2 linked regions of the Homo sapiens genome follow. The protein of the gene in region 1 purifies or fractionates together with the protein of each later gene. This does not show direct contact. Each region holds a gene or a part of one and is shown on either strand. Other genes may lie near its edges. The genes, in order: TLR6 and TLR4.

Region 1 (3,825 bases):
ACCAACCCTCTGGCCCCCAAGTGGTAGACACAGGCAGCAGCAGGCTGGGCAAGCCAGTCCTCAGGACCCCGTGTGGCATGCATGTGCCACACCCTGTGTGGCACTGCCCTGCCATGGCAGTGGCAGGCAGGCACTAGCAGCAAAGGGCATGGTGGACCTGTCCTCAGGCCCCTTGGAGGCATGTGTAGATGTGTCGTAGTCCTGCTGCTAGGGAAGATGGGGTTGCTGTAAGTGGCGGTGGCCCTGGGCAGGTAACTCTGAGGCTCTGGGGAATGCACACTTTGACTCCCTTTGTCCCAGGGAAAGCCACTAGGTGCACTGTGCTTCCTGTTTCCTGGGATGCGGGGCATTGCATGGGCTAGAGTGCTGGGGACCTAGCTGCACTGCTGATCTTAGCTGGCATTACAATGCTGTAGCCCTCTAGGTGGACGTAGGAGAATATCAGTGGGGCTTCAGGGGTGTGGAGATTCAGGGTTGTTGGGCCCCAGAACAGGATGTGTATGGTGAGGGCTGGGCTCTTAAAAGAGCCTTATGCTGAAGCTGTTTGGGTCTCAGGGTATGGGGTATGTGGGACCCAATGTGAAGTCCCATTGTGGAACAATGTGATTGCATATATTCCAGACAGCCCCAGGGCATGTGAAGGCCAAGGAGCTAGCTCATGGCTAGGATTACAGGAGTCCATAGTGGAAACATTGACCTCTGAAGATCTCTCAGTTAAACTTTCCCTGGAATGGGAAGTTCCTCCTGGTTCTGAGCTAGTCCCAGCTGGGCTGGCTGCTTCACTTCCCTCTTCTCCCATGCCTCAGAGGTGCACTGTCACTTCTCCGCTGAATTCCAGTGTTCTCTCTTAGATGCTCATTCAATGTGTGATTATCTGCTCACTGTTTTGGTCCTTCTTTGCAGAGGGGGTGAGGGCTAGGTGCCTCTATTCAGCCATTTTAATGCTTCTCCGGCTCATTTTTTAATTGTTCAATAGTATTTTATTGTGTGAATGTACCAGTTTGTTAATATTTTTATCTATTGAGGGATATCTTGTTGCTTCCAATGTTTGACAGTTATGAATAAAGCTTCTATAAACATCCACATGGAGGCTTTTATGTGGACATAAATTTTCAGTTCTTTTGGTTAAATACCCAGGAATGTGATTTGCTGGATTGTGTGATAAGACTATGCTTAGTTTTATAAGAAACTGCATTCCATAGTGGCTGCACCATTTTGCATTCCCACAAACAGTGAAAGAGAGTTCTTGTTGCTCCACATCCTCACCAACATTTGATGTTGTTTTTGGATTTTACCCATTCTCATAAGTGTAATGTAATTTCATTGCTGTATTAATCTGCAAAACCATGATGAAATATGATGTCAAATAGCTATGTATATGTGTATTTGCTCTTTACATATCTTCTTTGGTGAGGTGTCTGTTTAGATTTTTGTGCCCATTTAAAAACTAGGTTGTTTGTTTTCTTATTGTGGAGCTTAAGAGTTCTTTGCATAGTTTGGATACAAGTCCCTATCATATATGGGTTTTGCAAATATCTTCTCTGAGTCTGTGGTTTGTCTTTTTCACTCTCTTGCAGTGTCTTTTGCAAAGCAAAAATTTTAATTTTAATGAAGTCCAACTTAACAGTGTTTTCTTTCTTGGATTATGTTTTTGATGCGTATCTCAAAAGTCATCACCAAATCCAAAGTCACCTAGATTTTCTCCTATGTTATCTTCTGGAAATTTTATAGTTTTGCATTATACATTTAGGTCTATGGTTAATTTTGAGCTGATTTTTGTGAAAACTGTAAGGTCTGCGTCTAAATTCTTTCTCTTCTTCTTCTTTTTTTTTTTTTGCATGTGGAGGTCTAATTGTTCCAGCACCATTTGTTGAAAAGACTATCCATTCTCCACTGAGTTGCCTTTGCTCGTTTGTCAAACAGCAGTTGATTATTTTTTTGTGGGTCTATTTCTAAGCTCTGTATTCTGGTCATTTGACCTATTTGTCTATTCTTTCACCAAAACCACACTGCCTTGATTGCTGTAGCTTTGTAGCAAGTCTCAATGTTAGGTGGTGTCAGTTATCTGGCTTTGTTCTTTTAATTTCTTTTTTTTTTTTTTCCTGTGAATGAACAATACTTTCTGTTTCTTTGCATGGCTAATTTTTTTAAACAAATAAATTAGAGATTCCTTTAATGCCAAGTTACACAATCAAAAAGATAACAATCTCTTTCCATTTGCTTTTTGCAAGGTTTGTGTTATTTCAGGGCAAAACGTAGAGCAAGTCCACTGGCAAATCTGGGGGCTAGTGATTATTTTGTTTTGATTTTTATTTTTTTAAATCAGACATTTTAAACACTACAATGAGGTAACTCTAGAAATCAAATTCTGTCCCCCTTTCCCAGAGGTGTTTTATTTATTTATTTATTTATTTTTTGACAGGGTCTCATTCTGTCACCCAGGCTGGAGTGCAGTGGTGTAATCACAGCTCATTGGAGCCTCGACTTCCTCGGCCCCAAACAATCCTCCCACTCAGCCTCCCAAGTAGCTGGGACTATAGGCACACGCCACCATGCCCAGCTAAGTTTTGTATTTTTTGTAGAGATGGAGTTTCACTATGTTGCGCAGGCTGGCTTTGAACTCCTGGACTCAAGCAATCCACCTGCCTTGCCCTCCCCAAGTTCTGGGACTATAGGCTTAAGCCACTGTGCCGGGCCTCCCTTTCCCAGGGTGTATTGTTGCTTCTTGTGGCTTATAGTTGCTTGTTTAATGACTTTTCTAAATAATTTTTATAAAGATTATTCTTTGTCATGTGTGGCTATTACATTTTCTGTCCAGTTAGCTTAGTGGTCAGCCAGTAACTTGAGATTTCTTTAAACATCTGGAGCAAAAACAAAAACCAAATAAACTAGCAAAAGCAAAAACAAAAACACCCCTGATCTTTGCAGGTTGGCTGTGTTGGATCACTTTCTCAATGCTTAGCCAGTCTATTCACAGCTCTGCTTTAGCCTTCACTTTCTGCATGCATGGAAGCTAAAGATGAGCCAGAGGTGAAGTTTAGGATTTTCTCAGGTCTCCTCTGAACATGCGTCCAGCCTTGGGCACGTGAGTGGACTTCTGGACTCCCTGGTATATACAGAGATTTCCTCAGCCTTTTTTCTCCCACATATCTTTCTCCATATATCTTTGCATATTTCCCAGACTTTTTGATGTGTCTGCTGCTTGCCCCCTCTGTTAGCCCTTGCTCAGGTGGCTGCAGCTAGTATGTTTGCCTTTAATTGTTTACAGCAAACACCAGCCAGAAGGCTGTTCCAGCCCTGAGAAAGTTCTAAGGTGTACAAAACAAAGGCAAGCCCCTGAGTGTGAATCCCTCAGGCAGCAACCAGACAGGTCAAAACACACAACCACAATTCTTTGATAACAAGGCCTATATTGCCCCTTCTGGCATGAGCAAGCTATATAACTGGTTATAAAAAGTATTACATTAAATTATGGGGACAGAAATGACTCTACTAGTGAATGAAGAAATCATTTAGATTTTATGGTTAGTAAGTGGAGGTTTGAGAGTAACCATCCGATCTTTATTAATCTTAGTGTATATTATATTTCTAGAATTTGGACTCATATCAAGATGCTCTGAAGAAGAACAACCCTTTAGGATAGCCACTGCAACATCATGACCAAAGACAAAGAACCTATTGTTAAAAGCTTCCATTTTGTTTGCCTTATGATCATAATAGTTGGAACCAGAATCCAGTTCTCCGACGGAAATGAATTTGCAGTAGACAAGTCAAAAAGAGGTCTTATTCATGTTCCAAAAGACCTACCGCTGAAAACCAAAGTCT
Region 2 (3,825 bases), on another chromosome or scaffold:
GCACAATAGACATCCTTTGCCTTTTCGTACAGTGTTCACATACAGTAACTCAACTAGTCTTGTAAGAATGCTTTGTGATAGACCAGGCAGCCTTCTTTCCCCTATAGAAATATATATATATTTCTTTTTATAGGTGAGGAAACTGAAGCTTGAATAATTTAAATGACTTATATACATTATCATTGCTTGTTAGCCACAGACCAGAGATTTAAGTTCACATCTCCAGAATCCAACTTAAATGTTTTCTTTGTCTTAATACTCTACTTCTCTAAAGTGATTATCACCAATGTAATGATATAGAGACACAGCAAGACCCTTTCCTTCTCACCTAATGTATAGAGCAATGCAGAGATAGAATGATGGGCTATAACAATCATATAATTGAAAGAAAGAACTTCAAAAATAATCAAGTTCAGCTGTTTGATTTATAAATGTGATAACTAAAACCTAGAGAGGAAAAGAGGTACTCAAGATCACACAGTAGGAGAGGACTGCAGAAACACCAAACCCAAGCTCTTTTGTCCACTCTTCCAGCGTTCTTTCTACTATACTGCCTATCCTTTATCTAGTTACCAATAAATAACAAAAGCTTGGACCACAATGCTTTTATTGTCTAGGAAACTCCTGAAGAAGCTAAATAAAATGGGTGGGGAATATTGTAAATGTAATTCAGGCTGGATTAAGAAAGAACTTATTTGTACATTGTAACTGACAAGCACCTGCAATGCTGAAAGGAATTTTTCATTGGCTTGCTGTTTGCTGGCTGCATCAAAGCCCTGTCTCTAGGACATGTCTCTGAACATTGTGTGTAGCATGGCTTTCATTTCTTTTAGGATAAAATTCAAAACCCTTTATCTGGTTGGTAAACCTCTGCCTAATTGGGAACCTTCTTTCTCCACAACTCCATATTGTACACTCCAATTTCATCTCTGTTCTCCAACCATGGAAGCTATTTGTCATGATTCCTCCTTGTGTCATTTTTTTTCTGTCAACCTTGGGGCTTTTGTGTTTGCTGTTCACTTCACCTCCTTTTATTGTTAACTTCTACTCATCTTTCAATTTTCAACTTAAGTGTTCTCAGAGAAACCTACTTTGATTTTCTTGGTCCACAACGGTTCTCTGGATGTGAACTCTTATAGCACATAATTTTCACTTTTTTCCACAAAACTCGCTCCTATCACCTGTTACAAGCATTTACCTCTGATAACAAGAACTTTCAAATATCTAGCTGTCATGTAAGCACTTTTCATAAACATTAAGAGTATCTGTGACACTTATGTGTAATTTTTCGTATCTCTGAAATTGATATTTACCAGTCATTTATCTTGGCTACCAACTAACAACTATCCATATTATCTGTACCAATCAGATGTATAATCACAATTTTGTGTGACAGAAAATGGCTAAACTTGATCCAAGGCTATTACATGCTTTATCAACTGCACAATCTTTATATATGTCAATTATTGATCTTTAACTGATTTCCTTCTTATGGATTTTCTCCTCTGCTTATCATGTATGCCTAACATGACAAAAAAGAGCCTATCATTGCAGCCAGTATGATAATACTCAGTCTGTGGGGCTTCTTATTTGCTTATTCCATCATCATCTGTCCTGCTTGATGTCTTTGCCTATGCACAATCATATGACCCATCACATCTGTATGAAGAGCTGGATGACTAGGATTAATATTCTATTTTAGGTTCTTATTCAGCAGAAATATTAGATAATCAATGTCTTTTTATTCCTGTAGGTGTGAAATCCAGACAATTGAAGATGGGGCATATCAGAGCCTAAGCCACCTCTCTACCTTAATATTGACAGGAAACCCCATCCAGAGTTTAGCCCTGGGAGCCTTTTCTGGACTATCAAGTTTACAGAAGCTGGTGGCTGTGGAGACAAATCTAGCATCTCTAGAGAACTTCCCCATTGGACATCTCAAAACTTTGAAAGAACTTAATGTGGCTCACAATCTTATCCAATCTTTCAAATTACCTGAGTATTTTTCTAATCTGACCAATCTAGAGCACTTGGACCTTTCCAGCAACAAGATTCAAAGTATTTATTGCACAGACTTGCGGGTTCTACATCAAATGCCCCTACTCAATCTCTCTTTAGACCTGTCCCTGAACCCTATGAACTTTATCCAACCAGGTGCATTTAAAGAAATTAGGCTTCATAAGCTGACTTTAAGAAATAATTTTGATAGTTTAAATGTAATGAAAACTTGTATTCAAGGTCTGGCTGGTTTAGAAGTCCATCGTTTGGTTCTGGGAGAATTTAGAAATGAAGGAAACTTGGAAAAGTTTGACAAATCTGCTCTAGAGGGCCTGTGCAATTTGACCATTGAAGAATTCCGATTAGCATACTTAGACTACTACCTCGATGATATTATTGACTTATTTAATTGTTTGACAAATGTTTCTTCATTTTCCCTGGTGAGTGTGACTATTGAAAGGGTAAAAGACTTTTCTTATAATTTCGGATGGCAACATTTAGAATTAGTTAACTGTAAATTTGGACAGTTTCCCACATTGAAACTCAAATCTCTCAAAAGGCTTACTTTCACTTCCAACAAAGGTGGGAATGCTTTTTCAGAAGTTGATCTACCAAGCCTTGAGTTTCTAGATCTCAGTAGAAATGGCTTGAGTTTCAAAGGTTGCTGTTCTCAAAGTGATTTTGGGACAACCAGCCTAAAGTATTTAGATCTGAGCTTCAATGGTGTTATTACCATGAGTTCAAACTTCTTGGGCTTAGAACAACTAGAACATCTGGATTTCCAGCATTCCAATTTGAAACAAATGAGTGAGTTTTCAGTATTCCTATCACTCAGAAACCTCATTTACCTTGACATTTCTCATACTCACACCAGAGTTGCTTTCAATGGCATCTTCAATGGCTTGTCCAGTCTCGAAGTCTTGAAAATGGCTGGCAATTCTTTCCAGGAAAACTTCCTTCCAGATATCTTCACAGAGCTGAGAAACTTGACCTTCCTGGACCTCTCTCAGTGTCAACTGGAGCAGTTGTCTCCAACAGCATTTAACTCACTCTCCAGTCTTCAGGTACTAAATATGAGCCACAACAACTTCTTTTCATTGGATACGTTTCCTTATAAGTGTCTGAACTCCCTCCAGGTTCTTGATTACAGTCTCAATCACATAATGACTTCCAAAAAACAGGAACTACAGCATTTTCCAAGTAGTCTAGCTTTCTTAAATCTTACTCAGAATGACTTTGCTTGTACTTGTGAACACCAGAGTTTCCTGCAATGGATCAAGGACCAGAGGCAGCTCTTGGTGGAAGTTGAACGAATGGAATGTGCAACACCTTCAGATAAGCAGGGCATGCCTGTGCTGAGTTTGAATATCACCTGTCAGATGAATAAGACCATCATTGGTGTGTCGGTCCTCAGTGTGCTTGTAGTATCTGTTGTAGCAGTTCTGGTCTATAAGTTCTATTTTCACCTGATGCTTCTTGCTGGCTGCATAAAGTATGGTAGAGGTGAAAACATCTATGATGCCTTTGTTATCTACTCAAGCCAGGATGAGGACTGGGTAAGGAATGAGCTAGTAAAGAATTTAGAAGAAGGGGTGCCTCCATTTCAGCTCTGCCTTCACTACAGAGACTTTATTCCCGGTGTGGCCATTGCTGCCAACATCATCCATGAAGGTTTCCATAAAAGCCGAAAGGTGATTGTTGTGGTGTCCCAGCACTTCATCCAGAGCCGCTGGTGTATCTTTGAATATGAGATTGCTCAGACCTGGCAGTTTCTGAGCAGTCGTGCTGGTATCATCTTCATTGTCCTGCAGAAGGTGGAGAAGACCC

The links.
Region 2: the proteins of TLR6 (region 1) and TLR4 purify together in Homo sapiens (co-immunoprecipitation; one study listed by IntAct). This does not show direct contact.

Annotation. Positions count from the first base shown.
Region 1 is NC_000004.12:38,829,305-38,833,129, reverse strand, and holds part of TLR6 (toll-like receptor 6 precursor), read left to right. Parts: intron 1-3,592; 5' UTR 3,593-3,656; coding exon 3,657-3,825. UniProt on the Homo sapiens protein: Participates in the innate immune response to Gram-positive bacteria and fungi. Specifically recognizes diacylated and, to a lesser extent, triacylated lipopeptides.
Region 2 is NC_000009.12:117,710,636-117,714,460, forward strand, and holds part of TLR4 (toll-like receptor 4 isoform A precursor), read left to right. Parts: intron 1-1,753; coding exon 1,754-3,825.